Regions from separate parts of the Homo sapiens genome. Here region 2 is linked to region 1. Evidence: fine-mapped QTL for protein levels in blood plasma. A gene starts in region 1. The other region holds a variant in brackets. All regions are shown on one strand. Distances are between the middles of the regions.

Evidence for each region. PIP is the posterior inclusion probability: the model's chance that the variant is causal. The UK Biobank Pharma Proteomics Project read protein levels with antibody pairs (Olink). The fine-mapping took linkage between variants from a reference panel, not from the people measured, so its PIPs are less certain.
Region 2: its variant is fine-mapped to the plasma level of the GFRA3 protein (UK Biobank, PIP above 0.99).

What each region holds. Positions count from the first base shown.
Region 1 is chr5:138,269,716-138,279,585 of GRCh38, reverse strand. GFRA3 (GDNF family receptor alpha 3) reads left to right here and starts at 4,965. Exons shown (of 8, transcript NM_001496.4): 1 at 4,965-5,252. The coding sequence starts at 5,162. RefSeq lists silencers at 4,873-4,962, 5,053-5,242.
Region 2 is chr5:138,140,643-138,150,512 of GRCh38, reverse strand. BRD8 (bromodomain containing 8) reads left to right here. Exons shown (of 27, transcript NM_139199.2): 23 at 716-873; 24 at 4,635-4,724; 25 at 5,268-5,336; 26 at 9,631-9,808. Among named protein-coding and RNA genes, the nearest start is that of NME5, 6.2 kb to the right of the region's middle. The variant A/T (reference allele first, on the strand shown) is at 5,593.

The DNA.
Region 1 (9,870 bases):
TGAAACCCTGTCTTTACGAAGAATTTTTTTTTTTTAAGATGGAGTTTCGCTGGGTGCGGTGGCTCACGCCTGTAATCCCAGCACTTTGGGAGGCCAAGGCGGGCGGCTCACCTGAGGTCAGGAGTTCGAGACCAGCCTGACCAATATGATGAAACCCCATCTCTACTAAAAATACAAAAATTAGCCGGGCATGGTGGCATGTGCCTGTAATCCCAGCTACCTGGGAGGCTGAGACAGGAGAATCACTTGAACCTGAGAGCTGGGAGGCGGAGGTTGCAGTGAGCCGAGATCGCGCCGTTGCACTCCAGCCTGGGCAACAAGAGCGAAACTCCGTCTCAAAAAAAAAAAATGGAGTTTTGCTCTTGTTGCCCAGGCTGGAGTGCAATGGCACAATCTTGGCTTACTGCAACCTCCGCCTCCCGGGTTCAAGTGATTCTCCTGTCTCAGCCTCCCAAGTAGCTGGGATTACAGGCGCCTGCCACCATGCCTGGCTAATTTTTTTGTATTTTTAATAGAGACAGGGTTTCACCATGTTGGTCAAGCTAGTCCCAAACTCCTGACCTCAGGTGATCCACCTGCCTTGGCTTCTCAAAGTGCTGGGATTACAGGCATGAGCCACTGCGTCTGGCCTTCTACGAATAATTTTTAAAAATTAGCCAGGTGTGGTGGTGTGCACCTGTAGTCCCACCTACTTGAGAGGCTGAAGTGGGAGGATCACTAGAGCATGTGAAGTTGAGGCTGTGGTGAGCCATGATTGCACCACTGTGCTCCAGCCTGGGCAGTAGAGTGAGACCCTGTCTCAAAAAAAAAAAAAAAAAAAGGAAGAAAGAAAAAGAAAAAAAATACCTGAGACTGGGTAATTTTTTTTTTTTTTGAGACAGAGTCTTGCTCTGTCACCCCTGCTGGAGTGCAGTGGCATGATCTCAGCTCACTGCAAGCTCTGCCTCCTGGGTTCATGCCATTCTCCTGCCTCAGCCTCCCGAGTAGCTGGGACTACAGGTGCCCGCCACCACGTCAGGCTAATTTTTTTTTTTCATTTTTAGTAGAGATGGGGTTTCACCGTGTTAGCCAGGATGGTCTCAATCTCCTGACCTCATGATCCGCCCATCTCGGCCTCCCAAAGTGCTGGGATTACAGGCGTGAGCCACCGCGCCCGGCTTTTTTTTTTTTTTGGAGACAGGGTCTCACTGTGTCACCCAGGCTATAGTGTGGTGGCATGATCTTGGCTCACTGCAACCTCTGCCTTAGCCTCCCAAGTAGCTGGGACTACAGGCCGACACCACCATGCCTGGCTGACCACCATGCTTGCCTGGGAGACTGAACAATTTATAAGGAAAAGAAGCTTAATTAGCTCATGGTTCTGCAGGCTTTATGGGAAGCATGGTGTTGGCATCTGCTCAGCTCCTGGGTAGGCCTCTGGAAGCTTACAATCATGTCAGAAGGTGAAGGAGAAGCAGACATGTCACATATCCAGAGCAGGAGCAAGAGAGGGAGGGAGTTATGGGAGGAGGTGCCACACACTTTTAAATGACTGGATCTCTTGTGAACTCAGTGACAGCTCACTTATCCCCAAGAGAATGGCCCAAGCCATTCATGAAGGATCCACCCCCATGATCCAGACACCTCCACCAGGCCCCACCTCCAACATTAGGGATTACATTTCATCATGAGATTTGGGTGGGGACAAATATCCAAACTATATTAAGGAGGAATATTTCCCTTTCTTTATCAGGAGTATAAAGTAGGAGGCATGGGGGATTCTCTCCCTGTTCTGTTCAGGCATAGGTTAAGGAAACACCAATTCCTTTAAACATATGCATCTGGAGTTGCCAATTCTGAGTATCACAGTTGTTAAAATATGACACAGTCCCTGCCCTCAAGAAATTGACAAGGTAGAAAAATAAAAAATGGCTCTTTTTGTTTCCATCCCTACAAGCACTCTGGTCTAGTAGTATATTCAGCAAAAGGAGCAAAAAGTGCCACTTCCAGCTCCAAATCAGCAGGTCGGGTGGTGGGGTCTGGCCAAGTTCACACACAGAATAATTAACTCCTGCATGCTACCTGGGATGATATTTATTCGATGCTTGCTATATGCCAGGTATAATGCTACACCTTTTTTTTTCTTTTCTTTTTTTTTTTTTGAGTCGGAGTCTCGCTCTACTGCCCAGGCTGGAGTGCAATAGCATGATCTTGGCTCACTGCAACCTCCGCCTCCTGGGTTCAAGCAATTCTTCTGCCCCACTGAGCCTCCCGAGTAGCTGGGAATACAGGCATGTGCCACCATGCCCGGCTAATCTTTGTAATTTTAGTAGAGATGGGGTTTCATCATATTGGCCAGGCTGGTCTTGAACTCCTGACCTCGTGATCCGCCCACCTTGGCCTCCCAAAGTGCTGGGATTACAGGCGTGAGCCACCGCGCCCAGCCTACACCTTCATTTAAATACTATACTCATTTAATCCTCACAATGTGAAATAGATACTATTATCCTTAATTTTACAGGTGAAGAAATGGAAGCACAGAAAAATTAAGTGACTTGCCCAAGGTCATCCAGCTAGTGTCGGCATTTGAATCTAGGCAGTCTGTAAAGCTTGTGGTCTTAACTATTTATTATACTGCTAACATCCTGGATTAGGATAGCAGCAGGAATTAAAGCTCAATGGAGAGAGAGAGGACTTGAGAGAAGGTAGAATCCATGTAATCTGACCATAAGAGGAGAAAATTGAGATTACAAGTGAAAGTGGAATAAGATACAGGGTCTTTGGGCATTTGAGTTGCAATCAGTGGATTGTAACACCCTCCCCGAGCAGGATTTGTGTCTTAATCATTTTGCACCTAGCATAAAGCTGGGCTCATAATCATTCTCAAAACACATTATTGAATTGAATGATGGATGAGTAACATCATCTCTGTAGAAAGGACTGGCTCATTTGTCATTGTCCACAAGGGGCAATGCTGCTTATCTAGCAGGTGTTGGCAGTCACAGAGGACATGGTTGGTGGAGAGGGTGTGCTGGAGGGCTGTCAATATTAGTCTTGGAGTCATATTTATTTGCAGAGCTTCTCCAATCCTCATTAAAGGCCCAATGATATGAGGCTCTCCACCCCTGTACCCAGACAGAAATATGCACCAGACACTTTATTTTCTCTCATGAAAAGGCTGGCCTGTTACAGGTGGGATTGGTCATTGCTCCCAGCCCGTCAGCTTGATACTGCATTCTTGGTCTATTCTGTGGGGACAGCCCTGGAATAGACACTGAGTATCTATCAGAGTAGGCACCCTGAGCAAACTTCCTTTCCCAAACCCTCTTCCTGCCCATAACATGATTTGGCTTGGGCTGGAGGAGGGGGAGGGCAGAGGAGACACCCCTTGACCACCTCACATCTTTGTTGGTTCATGGGTCTCAGCCCTTTCCTATCATCCCAAAGAGCCTGAAATTGTTACATTTTGCTTTATAAATTCCTTTCTTAAGTATTGTCAGTTTCAAAAAAAAAAACCCAAAAAACGATTGTCTGCCTGTAATAGCAGGTGTGAGAGAAAATGAGGTGCCTGGAGCATATTTCTCTCTGGCAATGGGGTAGAGGGCCTGACATCATGGGGCCTTTAATGGTAGCCCCCCAGCTTCATGTTCCCTCACCTTTCTGGAGAGGAGGGCTTGGGAAAGGCACATGGAGATAGGGTGGAGCTGGGGGAAAACAGGCCTTGTACAAAAGCTGAGTAGCCAGATGTTCACTTTTACAGCTCTTCTGTAAAACTGGCAGGGCAGATATAGATTAAAACGAAGGACAAACTCCATTTAAAGTGCATTACAGCTCAGGAACCAGCACCCCCTGGGCAGGAGAAGGGAGGGAAGGGCACAGAGGCCACATCAGTCTCCTTCCTTATCTAGGGCCACATGTCTCTCTCCTAGCTTTGCCAAGGGTGATTTACACCCCCAGCTGGAATGACTCTCTTTCTGGGCTGATTACATCGGCAAATGCCCCCCAGAGGCCACAGCAGGATGGCCATATTCAGAAGCAGCAGCCAATAAATCTCAGAGGTTTATATTGCGATTCTCAGTACTCCCTGCTGGCCCTCTGCCAGGCTGGCTGTGGAAGTAAGGAGGGGGTCAAGTTAGAGGGTTAGGGGATGAAACCCTCCACTTCCTTTCATCACCCTCTTCTCCTTCTCTCTTTCTATGCGCTGCTTAGTTCTCATTCTTCCAAGCCATTCTGCTTCTGGCTTTATCCTGGGATCTTGTGGGAATCAGGCCCAGGCCCAATAAATACCCTTATCCTTATGGGTAGACGTCCTGTGTTCTGGGCACAGATGTGTTTCTACCTAGTTGTTTAATCCTGATAGAGTAGCTTGCTCTCCGAAAGTCTCATCATGTGAAAAGGATGGGCTCCTAAATGGTCTCTCCAGGCACCTTCCTCAGTGAGCTTTGGTCCAAGGAAATCTCTGCTATTTAGTGGAGAGTTTAATCTTCCATCTTCCCTCACGACACCATCGGGGCTGAATTTTGGAATCTAATGCCCCAGGTCTGCTCCCCCAGCAAAGCCATTCCACCTGTCTGCGACCCATCTTTGCAGCATCTTGAGCTTAATAACCACCCAATCTTACCCTAGAAGACACTTAGGAGAGGAAAAAACGAGATCATAGATGTGCAAATTCTAAGAAAAATACTAGAAATGCAAGTGCCCTTGTGTTGGCTTGTTCAAGTTTTGTTACAAAATCTCTTTTGTGGTGGTGTCTGTTCTTTGATGTGTGGGTGAGTGGGATCCAGAAAGTGAGAAAGGGTGCTTTTCTTGGAGAAATATTTGGTTCTCCTAGATGGCGAGTTTCCAGCGGCAGCTTCCACAATGTCTTGCTAGTCGAACTTGTCAGACAGCAGGTGGGCCGCCTCGGAAAGAGCAACCTCTTCCGCACCAAGCCCGGCGGCTCCCGGGGCGCCGGCCCTCCCCCGCCCCCACCCCCGCGGTCCCTCGGACCAGCGCTGGAGGCGCGTGGTGTGGACGCGCGCTTCGGAGTTGGAGGGCGGCGCCCAGGACCCTGGTGGGAGAGTGTGTGCGTCGCGCTGGAGGGCGGGAGGCGGGGGCGGGAGGTGCCGGTCGAGGGAGCCCCGCTCTCAGAGCTCCAGGGGAGGAGCGAGGGGAGCGCGGAGCCCGGCGCCTACAGCTCGCCATGGTGCGCCCCCTGAACCCGCGACCGCTGCCGCCCGTAGTCCTGATGTTGCTGCTGCTGCTGCCGCCGTCGCCGCTGCCTCTCGCAGCCGGTGAGTGTCAGAGCGCGCACCGGCCGGGGGTACAGTGGGAGGGGGAGGTGAGGTGTAGGCGAGGCCCGGGGCACCTGTCCGGAGAGGGCGCAGCAGCCTCCCGGTGCATCCGAGCCGAACAAGGGGAACTGGAGCAGGAAGCCCAGGGTGCCTGCAAGGGGCTGGGGTCACACCTAACACAGTGTACGAACTGAGATAGACTGAGTGCCAGCAATGGCCTGGCCACCCAAGCATCTCCTCCTCGCCCCTTTTTCCCCCCTCTTCCCTCTTTTGAGGTAGGTCTACACAGTCACAGAACAACCCACAGCCAGGTCACTACCAAGACAGCGTCTCTAAGAGGCGGGGAGAATCAGATCAGAAACAGAGTGTCATTTGCTCCACGTGGGCTTTAACTCTTCCATCTGCTTTAAGGACTGAGGAAGAAACTAGGTACAGGTGAAGAAAAAGAAGTTCGTTAAAACTGACTTGTTTCATAACCTTCTACAATAGCAGGCCTTGCAAGCCGTCTAGCACAGTGGCTTGCCCCTTGGATAATAAATAATCCACAATAGATGTTTTGTAGATGTAGTTCAAGGCCTGGTTTTAGAACCAGGCCACTCCCCCAAGGAAGAACAGCCTGGGATCCGAGATCCCTGGAAGGCCCATGGCCTTCGTGAGTGGTATGGGTGTGTGGAATCTTATTATGCGGCTCCTGCCCAGAGACTGAATGGAGGGACTCCTGAGACAGAGAGACCACCACACTGCCCTGAGACCTCAGTCCACAACGCAGTGCTGTAGAAATGCTGCCTTGAGACAGATATGGAAGGAAGGAGGAAAAACCCTGGTCTGTCCACCTGCCAACATCAGTAAGTCAGGGCAGCAAGACATCACCAGTCTGATTTGACTGCCCAGGAAATTTCACTAATCCTAAAGGTTATGGCTGCATGTCAGGATCAGGGGAAAACATTAAACACCTTTCTCATTAAATGGTTTAATGAAGCAGTGTTGGTGACAGATCTATTTTCCACAGTAATACTTGACAGCAATGACATCTGGTTAAGTAGCCTCATTGAAAATCCATAAAACAGTCATCTAGGAGGTACCATGTAGAGCCAAGTGCTCTTCAAGAGCACAGACCAACAGAGGGCTTTGGGGGTGGAAAATATCATTGCTCAGGGCCTGCTAAAGCCAAGCATATAGGAGACCTCCGATTCATGGGGAAGTGGTGTCATGTACTGAAAATCATTCTGAAGTGGATAGGAGGCTGGAGTCCTGGGTTCTAGCCTTGACTCGGTCTTGACTTGCTACATCCCCTGGTGCACATTACTTTTCTTTGTTCATCCAACTATAAAATGGATACCTGGGTTGTGGGCCTCACTGATGAGAAACAAATGAGGATCTTGTGCCCTGAGGCATAGCCTGATCTGACCCATTCTGTAGCTACTCATTCTCTGATGAGCCAAGAAGCAGAAAACAAAGTTACAAAACCAGGTTGCTAACAAATCAATATGAAATAGACGTGGCAGTGGCTGTATAAATGAGGAGGTGGGGCAAGTAATAGAAAGTGGTATGGACTATAACAAGCTGGAAAAGGCATGACTTGTCAAAAGGGGGCAGTCATTACTCCACCCGTTACATGTGGGCCCGAGTGTTTCCATTTTTCAAGACAAATTGGAAATTAATAGTTTTATTTGAAATCTGATTTTTTTTTTGAGACAGGGTATCAATCTGTCACCCAGGCTGGAGTTCAGTGGTGTGATTCCAGTTCACTGCAGCCTCAACCTCCCATACTCAAGTAATCCTTCTGCCTCAGCCTCCCCAGTAGCTGGGACTGTAGTAGTGTGCCACCACACCTGGTTAATTTTTGTATTTTTTGTAGAGACGGGTTTTTGCCATCTCGGATGCCCAGGCTGATCTTGAATCCTGGGCTCAAACAGTCTGCCCACCTTGGCCTCCCAAAGTGCTGCAATTAAAGGTGTGCGCCACCGCACCCGGCCTAAAATCTGATTTTTAAATGTTGGCCACTAATTACAACTTTAAGAAAATACTGGCTGGGTGCAGTGGCTCACACCTGTAATCCCAGCACTTTGGGAGGCTGAGACGGGTAGATCACGAGGTCAGGAGATTGAGACCATCCTGGCTAACACAGTGAATCCCCGTCGCTACTAAAAAATAGAAAAAATTAGCCAGGCATGCTGGTGGGCGCCTGTAGTCCCAACTACCCGGGAGGCTGAGGCAGGAGAATGGCGTGAACCTGGGAGGTGGAGCTTGCAGTGAGCTGAGATCGCGCCACTGCACTCCAGCCTGGGTGACAGAGCGAGACTCCGTCTCAAAAAAAAAAAAAAGAAAAAGAAAATACTGTGAACGTGCAAAAAAAACCAACCAAACAAACAAATAAAACAACCAAACCACACACACACACACACACACACACACACACAAAAAAAAAAAAAAAAAAAAAACAGAAAAGAAAATACTGCCGGGAATGGTGGCTCACGCCTATAATCCCAGCATTTTGGGAGGCCAAGGTGGGTGGATTGCTTGAGCTCAAGAGTTCGAGACCAGCCCGGGCAACATGGTGAAAACCCATCTCTACAAAAAATACAAAATTAGCTGGGCGTGGTAGTGCATGCATGCAGTCCCAGCTACTTGGGAGGCTGAGGTGGGAGAATTCACCTGAGCCTGGGAGGTCGAGACTGTAGGCTGCAGTGAGTGGCGATTGTACCACTGCACTCCAGTCTGGGTGACAGAGATTAAAAGAAAGAAAAGAAAAGGAGAAAGGAGAAAGAAAAAGAAAGGAACGGAACTATGCTGACTAAAAAAGACACATTTGCACACTGGATCAAATTATGACCTTTGCCCTGGATCAAGTCCTGTGTTTCACAATCCAGGAAACACAGGTTCCACCTTGTTGAGATGAAATTTAACGTGGCCCCCAAGTTCTTTGTTGAGATGAATGCCCCTAAATCCATCACTGCTCAAACTTGGTAAAGTGTCAACTAAGAAATTGTTTTCTTTTGAAAATGTTTACAACTCAATAGTTAGTACAGTTAAATATTTATGGCCGGGCACAGTGGCTCATGCCTGTAATCCCAGCACTTTGTTGAGGCCGAGGCGGGCAGATCACCTGAGGTCGGGAGTTCAAGATCAGCCTGACCAACATCGAGAAATCGCATCTCTACTAAAAATACAAAATTAGCCAGGCATGGTGGGGCATACCTGTAATCCCAGCTAGTTGGGAGGCTGAGGCAGGAGAATCGCTTGAACCCGGGAGGCAGAGGTTGCAGTGAGCCGAGATCGCGCCACTGCACTCCAGCCTGGGTAACAAGAGCAAAACTCCACCTCAAAAAAAAAAAATTATTTTTAGTCCAGTTACAACAATAGAACTTGAATCTGCCACTTTTCTTTGTGTACTTACCACTTATTCAGTACCTACCGGAAGTAACATCGTAAACTTGTAGAAATTCCTCAATCTTTTTAAATCCATGTTCCCCTTTTGGTAAATATATAAAATCTCATACCTTCCTTAAATACTTTTTGAAATCTCAAAAGCTTTTTTTTTCATCTTGTACATGTAAAATTATCAAATATGCTTTTTGGAAATACATATTTCCTAGAGAAATTCTGATATACTTTTTCTTTTCCATAGGTTATTGGGGTACATACAGGTGGTGTTTGGTTACATAAGTAAGTTCTTTAGTGCTGATTTATGAGATTTTGGTGTACCCATCACCCAAGAAGTATATACTGCACCCTATTTGTAGTCTTTTATCCCTTCCCCTCCCCCACGCTTCCCCCCAAGTCCCCAAGTCCATTGTATCATTCTTATGCCTTTGTATCCTCATAGCTTAGCTCCCACATATCAGTGAGAATATACGATGTTTGGTTTTCCATTCCTGAGTTACTTCACTTAGAATAATAGTCTCCAATCTCATCTAGGTTGCTGCAAATGCTGTTAATTCATTCCTTTTTTTTTTTTTTTTGAGACGGAGTCTGGCTCTGTCGCCCGGGCTGGAGTGCAGTGGCGTGATCTCGGCTCACTGCAAGCTCCGCCTCCCGGGTTCGCGCCATTCTCCTGCCTCAGCCTCCGAGTAGCTGTACAGGTGCCTGCCAGCACACCTGGCTAACTTTTTTTTTTTTTTTTTTTTTGTATTTTTAGTGGAGACGGGGTTTCACTGTTTTAGCCAGGATGGTCTTGATCTCCTGACCTTGTGATCCGACTGTCTCAGCCTCTCAAAGTGCTGGGATTACCGGCGTGAGCCACCATGCCTGGCCAATTCATTCCTTTTTATGGCTGAGTAGTATTCTATTCTATCACAATTTCTGTTCCATTCGTTGATTGATGGGCATTTGGGTTGGTTCCATGATTCTGCAATTGCAAATTGTGCTGCTATAAACATGAGTGTGCAAGTATCTTTTTGGTATAATGACTTCTTTTCCTCTGGGTAGACACTCAGTAGTGGGACTGCTGGATCAAATGGTAGTTCTACTTTTTTTTTTTTTTTTTTTTGAGATGGAGTCTTGCTGTGTCACCACCAGGCTGGAGTGCAATGGCATGATCTCGGCTCACTGCAACCTCCGCCTCCCAGGTTCAAGCGATTCTCCTGCCTCAGCCTCCTCAGTAGCTGGGACTATAGGC
Region 2 (9,870 bases), 130 kb after region 1:
GTTTAAATGAGATAATTCATGTAAAGCACTTAGCACAGTGCCTGGCTTATAGTAAGCAATCAGTAAAATTTAGAATACCGTCATCATTATTAATATTATCTGGCAGGTGGGGTGCAATGGCTCATGCCTGTAATCCCAGTGCTTTGGGAGGCAGAGGCAGTAGGATCTCTTGAGCTCAGGAGTTCAAGACCAGTCTGGGCAATACAGGGAGACACCATCTCTACAAAAAACAAAAAACAAATTAGCCAGGTATGGTGGCATGTTCCTGTAGTTCCAGCTACTTAGGGGTCTCGGGGGAGCCCAGGAGTGCAAGGCTGCAGTGAGCCATGATGATGCTACTGCACTCCAGCCTGGGCAACAGAGTGAGACCCTGTCTCAAAAAAAAAAAAAAAATTATCTGGCCAGCTAGAGTAGTTAACTCCAGGGCCACAGGTGATCATGATGGTTTTTAAAGAATCCAATGAGAATTGGGCAAATAATGCTTTTCCATTTTGCTGGAGGTGAGTGGCACAGAGTCAAAGTCCTCCAGCAAGATTGTTACCAAGAACTCATTAACTTAAATCTAGTTAAGTCAGCTTTCTTTAATTTCTTTTGTAGCTTTATGTAATTGACCTCTTCTCACCTTAAGGGCAGCCTTCATTTACTCTATGCAAGTAAAATTACTATGCAGAAAGTAAATCTCCTTCTAAAGTTTCCTGTTTCCTGGCATTCCTAGGGGGAGGCTCAGCAAGAATCCAAAGGGGAGGACCAGGGTGAAGTATATGTGTCAGAGATGGAAGACCAGCCCCCTTCAGGCGAGTGTGATGATGCCTTTAACATTAAGGAGACTCCCTTGGTGGATACACTTTTCAGCCATGCTACCTCCTCAAAGCTGTAAGCGTAGACTTTCATCCAAGTTTGTTAAGATTCGTACTTCTGTTTATGCCTATTTGAATCATGAAATGGATTACTTTTATAAGTTAAAGAAAATTAGAGTTGGAAAACACAAAAAATATAATTAATTAAGTATAATTTTAACATCATATAAATAGAAGTCTATATGCTCTCCTGTTATAAAACAAATATGTTTAATCAATATTAGGACTGTCTTTCAAGGCTAGGTGTGGTGGCTCACACCTGTAATTCCAGCACTTTGGGAGGCCAAGGCAGGAGGATCCCTTGATCCCAGGACTTTGAGACCAGCCTGGGCAACATAGGGAGACCATGCCTCTACAAAATAAAAATTAAAAAAAAATTAGCCAGGTATGGTGTCACTTGTCTATAGTCTCAGGTACTCCGGAAGCTGAGGTGGGAGGATCACCTGAGCCCAGGAGGTCAAGCTGCAGTGAGCCATGATTGTGCCACTGTACTCTAGCCAAGTCTGTATCACTCCAGCCTGGGTGATGGAGCTAATATTATACAAACTATGCCTAATATACAAACTATGGTGCTTTTTTTTTCTTTAATAGAGACAGGGTCTAGCTCCATCACCCAGGCTGGAGTGCAATGGGCACGATCATGACTCACTGCAGCTTGACTTCCTGAACTCAAGGGATCCTCCCACCTCAGGCTTCCAAGTAGCTGGGAATACAGCCATGGGCCACCACACCCAGCTGATTTTTTATTTTTTGTAGACAGGGCTGGCCTTGCTATATTGCCCAGGCTTGTCTTGAACTCCTGGTTTCAAGTGATCCTCCTACCTCAGCCTCCTAAAGTGTTGGGATTACAGGCTTGAGCCACTGTGCCTGGCCCAAACTATACCTCTTTTAAAAATATTAAAATAGATTTTATGAACTTGAAATGGAAAATTATTTTGATGGAGACAAGGAAGAGGATAAAAAAATTTTTTTTTAAAGAAAAAATTAGGCCAGGCGCAGTGGCTCACACCTGTAATCTCAGCACTTTGGGAGGCAGAGGCAGGAGGATTGCTTGAGCTCAGGATTTTGAGACTAGCCTGGGCAATATAGTGAAACCTCATCTTTACAAAAAATAAACAAAATTTATTGGGTGTGGGGGCATGCACCTGTAGTCCTAGCTACACAGGAGGCCAAGGCAGGAGGACTGCTTGAACTTGGGAGGTGAAGGTTACAGTGAGCTATGATCATGTCACTACACAGCCTGGGTGACAGAGCAAGACCCTGTCTCAGAAAACAAAACAAGAAATAAAAGAGAAGAAAAAAATTATTTTGAAGTTTGTGATCTTTGTTTCTTTTTCACATCTCTTAGGGGATTGTTTATGTCAAGCTTGTCTAATCCCTAGCCTGCAGCCCAGGACAGCTTTGAATGTGGCCAAACACAAATTCTTAAAACATTATGAGATTTATGCACTGACCCTTTTTTTTTCCCTTTTTTTTTTCTTTTTTTTTTTTTTTTTCCAGCTCATCAGCTATTGTTAGTGTATTTTATGTGTGGTCCAAGACAATTCTTCTTCTTCCTCCAGTGTGGCCCAGGGAAGCCAAAAGATTGGACACCCCTGGTTTATGCAATTGTCTCATCTTTGTATAGATAATTATAGGACTAAATAACACATTTTCAAATCTTAATGGGGGCTGTTTTTTTTTAACAGGAAACCAAAAAAATATTAATTTTTTTTTTTGAGATAGGATCTCACTCTGTTGCCCAAGTTAGAGTGCAATGGCATGATCTTGGCTCACTTCAGCCTCCGCCTCCTGGGCTCAGGTGATCCTCTCACCTCAGCCTCATGAATAGCTGGGAACACAGATGTGCACCACCACAACCAGCTGATTTTTTTGTATTTTTGTTAGAGACAGGGTTTCATCACATTGACCAGACTGGTCTCAAACTCCTGGACTCAAGCGATCCCCTGCCTTGGCCTCCCAAAGTCCTGGGATTATAGGCATGAACTACTGCATCTGGCATGAAGTGAATTACTTTTTAAAGCAGAAAAACAAAGTTGTTTTTATCTGTGACTCCTGGCCTCAAGTGATTCTCCTGCCTCAGCCTTTCAAAGTGCTGAGATTATAGGCATGAGCCACTACGTCCAGCAAAGTTATTTTTGTTATGGTAATAAATAAATTGTTCTTTTTCCAGCCTGTGTCAGATCCATCTGTTGAGAGAATATAGTATGAACTGTTTTTTTTTTCTTCAGTATATCCCAGATCCACCCAGTTGTCTGTGGAAAGGTAAAACTAATAATTATTCTAGTGTTTTTTTGTTTAAGATATACAGCTGAACCATGCATATATTTATATATGAATATATATATATATATATTTTTTGAAGAGCAGATTTCTTTTTTTTCTCATAGAGACAGGGTCTTGCTTTGTTGCCCAAGCTGGGTCTTGAACTCCTGGCTTCAAGCAATCCCACCTCAGCCTCCCAAAGTACTGGGATTATAAGCCTGAGCCACTGTGCCCAGCCTAGATTTCAATTTTTGGTACACAAATAGGATACAGTTTAAAATGTAGATTGGTGAGGAATGCCTTCATTTGCTTTTCTTTAACTCCTTAAGTATGAGCAATAGAGTGCAGAGATGACATACTGTGACTGTACAAACAGCAGGAAATCTGCAATCTGAGACTTTTTTTTTTTTTTTTTTTTTTTGAGACGGAGTTTCGCTCGGTCGCCCAGGCTGCAGTGCAGTGGCGTGATCTCGGCTCACTGCAAGCTCTGCCTCCTAGGTTCACACCATTCTCCTGCCTCAGCCTCCCAAGTAGCTGGGACTACAGGCACCCGCCACCACGCCCAGCTAATTTTTTGTGTATTTTTAGTAGAAACGGGGTTTCACCGTGTTAGCCAGGATGGTCTCAATCTCCTGACCTTGTGATCCGCCTGCCTCGGCCTCCCAAAGTGCTGGGATTACAGGCGTGAGCCACCACACCGGGCCCAATCTGAGACATCTTATCTCATGACAGTTCATAGTCTTGGATGGTAAATTCCACATTCTTACCTTACAATTTAGATTAAATATGAAATCTTTATTAGAAAGCAGTAGATATCCAGCCTGGGCAACGTAGTGGGACCTTGTCTCTACAACAAATACAGAAATTAGCTGCAGGGCGTGGTGGCATGTGCCTGGAGTCCCAGCTACTTGGGAGGCTGAGGCAGGAGGATCGCTTGAGCCCAGCAGGTTGAGGCTGCAGTAAGCCACGATCACACTACTGCACTCCAGCCTGGGCAACAGAGCAAGACCCTGTCTCAAAAAAAAAAAAAATTGGCTGGGCATGGTGGTTCATGCCTGTAATCCCAGCACTTTGGGAGGCTGAGGCGGGTGGATCACTTAAGGCCAGGAGTTTGAGACCAGCCTGGCCAACATGGCAAAACCCCGTCTCTATGGAAAATACAAAAATTAGTTGGGTGTGGTGGTATGCAACTTTAGTCCCAGCTACTTGGGAGGCTGAGGCAGGAGAATCGCTGGAACCCGGGAGGCAGAGGTTGCAGTGAGCTGAGATCATGCCACTGCACTCCAGCCTGGGCAACAGAGCAAGACTCTGTCTCAGAAAAATAAAATTAAAAAATTAAAAGAGAAAACAATAGATATTAATAACTAAGTCTGCTTGGCCAGATAAGGGGAGATAAAAAGCTTCAGATATTAATTAGGAGCATGTCTTAAGAAAACCTCATTACCCACCTGGGGGAGATAGAATATTATTTGTGAAGTTACTGTCTCTTTTCTTCATGTTTTATCCTCATAGGACTGATCTAAGCCAGGATGACCCTGTTCAGGATCATTTGCTATTTAAGAAGACTCTCCTGCCAGTCTGGAAGATGATTGCCAGTCACAGGTAGGTCTCCAAAGTGGTAATAGGATTATGTTCAGAGCTGAAGCAGTAATACATATTGGGGTTTAAGCATAAAAGGAGATATGTTCATCCCTCAAATGAGCCATAGTTGAAAGGTAGATTCTGTATCTAAGCCCGATTTATCCCAAAGTACCCACAGCTGCTTTCACAAGTCTGTACAAGAAATAGTTGCTGTGCCATTTGAGTTGCCTCTAGAAATTGGTTCCTACTACATGATAAAATTTATATTTAAAATGTATATTCTTCTTTTCAATCTGGTGGATTCTCTTTTTTCACAGAGACAGGGCCTTGGGAACTTTGAACAAATTTCTGAGCCCTAAATCAGTATATTGTAATAATAGTGAAATATTTTATAGTTTTGTGTTTTTTTTAACTCTCTGGCAAGAGGGAACAAATAGATTTTTTCCTAATGGTGCTGACAGTCTGCATTCCCCTAAAGGAAGTCTACTAAGAACTGAGCTACTCTTCTCCTTCAGAGTGCCTTGCCAGGGTTTCTTTATCCTCTCTGGGTTTGTCCCTTAACAGGTTCAGCAGTCCATTTCTGAAGCCTGTGTCAGAAAGGCAGGCCCCAGGGTACAAGGATGTGGTGAAAAGGTCAGTGAAAAAGGGGTCAAGAAAGGTTGGTTGCTTTTATATCTGCCTTTTCATTTTTTATTTCCCATCTGTTAGATTATTTTTATAACTTACAAACTCAAGATATGTTTCATAGCCAAACAAGTTTATAAAGTTATGATGAGCTCAGTATCATATCTTCATTTAAGAAGGAATGCAGGGAACAAAAGGATGATATAGGCTTTTTATTTTGTACTATTGACTTTTAAGTAATATGATCCATTCTATATATATATAT[A/T]TTTTTTTTTTTTTTTTTTTTTGACAGGGTCTCACTCTGTTGCCCAGGCTGGAGTGCAGTGGTACAGTCTTGGCTCACTGCAACATCCTCTTCCCAGGCTCAGCTATTCTCCAGCCTCAGCCTCCCAAGTAGCTAAGACTACAAGCATGAGCCATCACGTCCGGCTAATATTTGTATTTTTTGTAGAAACGGAGCTTTGCCATGTTGCCCAGGCTGGTCTTGAACTCCTGAGCTCAAGCAATCCACCTGCCTAGGCCTTCCAAAGGCTGGGATTATAGGTGTGAGCCTTGGTGTCCAGCCTGATCATTAATTATAATCTTAAATTAGCCTTTGGTTGTTTTTGACACTATTCTTTTGGAGCAAAACTTTAAAAGGAACCCTGTATTTATTCAGTTAGTTATAGGTATAGTAAGGCACAGATGTCGATCCAAATGGAAGTTATGAACATTGGTTGATTGTAGTATTGTGTCCGGAATTGGTTCCTTCCGGTGGGTTCTTGGTCTCGCTGACTTCAGGAATGAAGCTGCAGACTCTCGTGGTGTTACAGTTCTTAAAGATGGTGTGTCCAGAGTTTGTTCCTTCGGATGTTCAGATGTGTCCGGAGTTTCTTCCTCCCGGTGGGTTTGTGGTCTCGCTGAGTTCAGGAGTGAAGCTGCAGACCTTCACAGCGAGTGTTACAGCTCTTAAAGGTGGCGCCTCTGGAGTTGTTCGTTCCTCCCAGTGGGTTGGTGGTCTCGCTGGCTTCAGGAGTGAAGCTGCAGACCTTGGCGGTGAGTGTTACAGCTCTTAAAGGTGGTACATCCGGAGTTGTTTATTCCTCTTGTTGGGTTCGTGGTCTTGCTGGCTTCAGGAGCGAAGCGGCTGACCTTCACGGTGAGTGTTACAGTTCATAAAGGTAGTGCGGACCCAAAGAGTGAGGAGCAGCAAGATTTATTGCGGAGTGAAAGAACAAAGCCTCCACAGTGTGGAAGGGGACTCCAGCGGGTTGCCACTGCTGCCTTGAGGGGCCAGCTTTTATTCCCTTATTTGGCCTCCTCCACATCCTGCTGATTTGTCCATTTTACATAGTACTGATTGGTCCATTTTACAGAGTGCTGATTGGTCCATTTTTATAGAGTGCTGATTGGTGCGTTTACAAACCTTTTTTGGTGCGTTTTTACAGAGTGCTGATTGGTGCATTTACAAAGCTTTAGCTAGACACAGAGCGCTGATTGGTGCATTTACAAATGTTTAGCTAGACACAGAGCGCTGATTGGTGCGTTTTTACAGAGTGCTGATTGGTGTGTTTACAAACCTTTAGCTAGATACAGAGCACTGATTGGTGTGTTTACAATCCTTTAGCTAGACAGAAAAGTTCTCCAAGTCCCACCCAACCCAGAAGCCCAGCCAGCTTCACCTCTCAGTATTTTGGGATTTTATTTTTATTTTTTATTTAAAAAAATTTTTTTGAGACAGGGTCTCACTCTGTTGCTGGAGTGCAGTGGTGCAATCATGGTTCACTGCAGCCTTGACCTCCTGGGCTCAAGCAATCTTCCCACTTCAGCCTCCGGAGTAGCTGGGACTACAGGCATGTGCCACTGCACTTAGCTAATTTTTAAATTTATTATTTTTTAAATTTTTACTTACTATTATTTTTTGAGACAGGTCTCACTCTGTTGCTCAGGCTGGAGTGCAGTGGCACATTTCTTGGATAACTGAGCCTCAACTGCCCAGGTTCAAGCAATCCTTCCACCTCAGCCTCCCTAATAACTGGGTCTAGAGGTGTGTGCCACCATGCCCGGCTAATTTTTGTATTTTTTATAGAGATAGAGTTTCACCATGGTGCCCAGGCTTGTCTCAGACTCCTGGGCTCATGCAGTTCACCCACCTCAGCCTCCCAAAGTGCTGGGATTACAGGTGTGAGCCACTGTGCCTGGCCTGATATTTTTATTATAATAAAATATTTTCTTTGTTTGAAATGTTATTAATAACTTTATTTTTCTTCAGAATATCACTGAGGAGGAATTTTTAAATTTTTTGTAGATATGGGGTCTCACTAGATTGCCCAGGTTGGTCTTAAGCTCGTAGTCTCAAGCAATCCTCCCACCTCAGCCTTCCAAAATGCTGGGATTACAGGCAGGTAATCCTAGCCTATTTTGGATTTTTTTTTTTTTTTTTTTTTGAGACAGTCTTGCTCTGTCACCAGGCTGGAGTGCAGTGATGAGATCTCGGCTCACTGCAACCTCCGCCTCCCGGGTTCAAGTGATTCTCCTGCCTCAGCCTCCTGAGTAGCTGGAACCACAGGCACACGTCACCACGCCCAGCTAATTTTTGTATTTTTAGTAGAGACAGGGTTTCACTATGTTGGCCAGGATGGTCTCAATCTCTTGACCTCGTGATCCGCCTGCCTCGGCCTCCCAAAGTGCTGGGATTACAGGCTTGAACCACTGTGCTCGGCCTATTTTGGGTTTTTATAGCATAGGTCATCTAAAATGCTGTCATAAACCTGTATGGTAATAGAATGTAAAAGATCATGATAGGACCTTTGGAGAGTCACTAGTCTGTGCTGCTATAGCACAATACCACAGGCTGGATAATTTATAAATAATAGAAATCTATGTTTCTTTGTTTTGGTTCTGGAGGCTGGGAAGTGCAAGATCAAGGCATTGGTAGTTTTGGTGTGTGAGGTGGGTTACTCTCTGCTTCTGCTTCTAAGATGATGCCTTGTTGTTGTATTCTGCAGAGGGGACGAATGCTGTATCCTCACATGGCAGAAGGGACAGAAGGATAAGAGGGCACTCTCTTCGATATGGAGCCCTTTTATAAGGATGCTAATCCCATTCATGAAGGCAGAGCACTCATGAATTAATTACCTCCCAAAGGCTCCACCTCTTAATACTGTTGCACTTGGGATTAAGTTTCAACATGAATTTTGGAGGGGATACCATCATTCAAACAGCAGAGACAATGATACCATCATTCAAACAGCAGAGACAAACTTCTTTAGGAATGAGGAAACTAAAGCTCAGAGGTGCTTGGTCATGACTTGCTCGTGATCAACCAACAGTTAATAGCAGAGCTAGAACTAAGCCCCAGATTCTTACCTGCAGTTCAGTCTTCTTTCTACACTGCTGTGCCTTCTCTTATATATCTACTTTCTGTGTCTCATTAATATTGTCTTAATATTCACTTGATCCTTTTTTCATCTCCATGAAAGGAGAAAAAAATTATTCTTAGCTTTTTATTTGTGCAGTAAGAGAAGTAGATGAAATAATATATGACTATACATTGTAAACAGCAAATAACTACTGTGTGATAAACTGATGATTGGTGCTCTTTACAACTTTGATACCTGGGGCCAGCACTCCTCCTCTGATAGTAGAATATAGTGGCTTGACCTGTGGGCTCTGGAGTCAGGCTGCCTCTGAATTGGAATTCAGGCTGTGTGCCTTTCAGTGAGTACTTAACCTCTTTAGATTTCAATTTCTTCATCTGTGAAATGGAGATAATAAGGCCGGGGGCGGTGGCTCACACTTGTAATCCCAGTACTTTGGGAGGCCAAGGAAGGTGGATCCCCTGAGGCTAGGAGTTCGAGACTAGCCTGACCAACATGGTGAAACCCTATCTCTACTAAAAATACAAAAATTAGCTGGGCATGATGGCGCACGCCTGTAATCCCAGCTATTCTGGAGGCTGAGACAGGGGAATTGCTTGAACCTGGAAGGTGGAAGTTGCAGTGAGCTGAGATTGCTCCATTGCACTCCGGCCTGGGCAACAAGAGTGAAACTCCGACTCAAAAAAAAAAAAAATGAGATATTAATGATACCTACCTTACAGGTTTATTGAGAGGATTAAGTGAGTTAGTATAGAAATACAGTGTTTGGCCCATTGTAAACAGGCAAATATTAACTGCTGTTGCTATTTTATTATCTGATGAGGGTTGTTATCTTTGCTACTGTTTTCATTAAGAACTGGTTAGTTCTTCAAGAGAACGTGTTAGGTTATCATATGTTCCACATGAAGGTTTGATTTTCTTTGTTTTTTCTTGGCCACCTGCAGACCCATGGACTTAACTAGCCTGAAGAGAAATCTCTCTAAGGGTCGGATTCGCACCATGGCCCAATTCCTGCGAGACCTGATGCTGATGTTCCAAAATGCTGTAATGTACAATGACTCTGATCATCATGTATACCATATGGCTGTGGAGATGCGGCAAGAAGTCCTGGAGCAGATTCAGGTACTGTATGCAGATACCTGTAGCCTCTGGAATCTTGATTTCAGAACGCCTATGAGAATAAA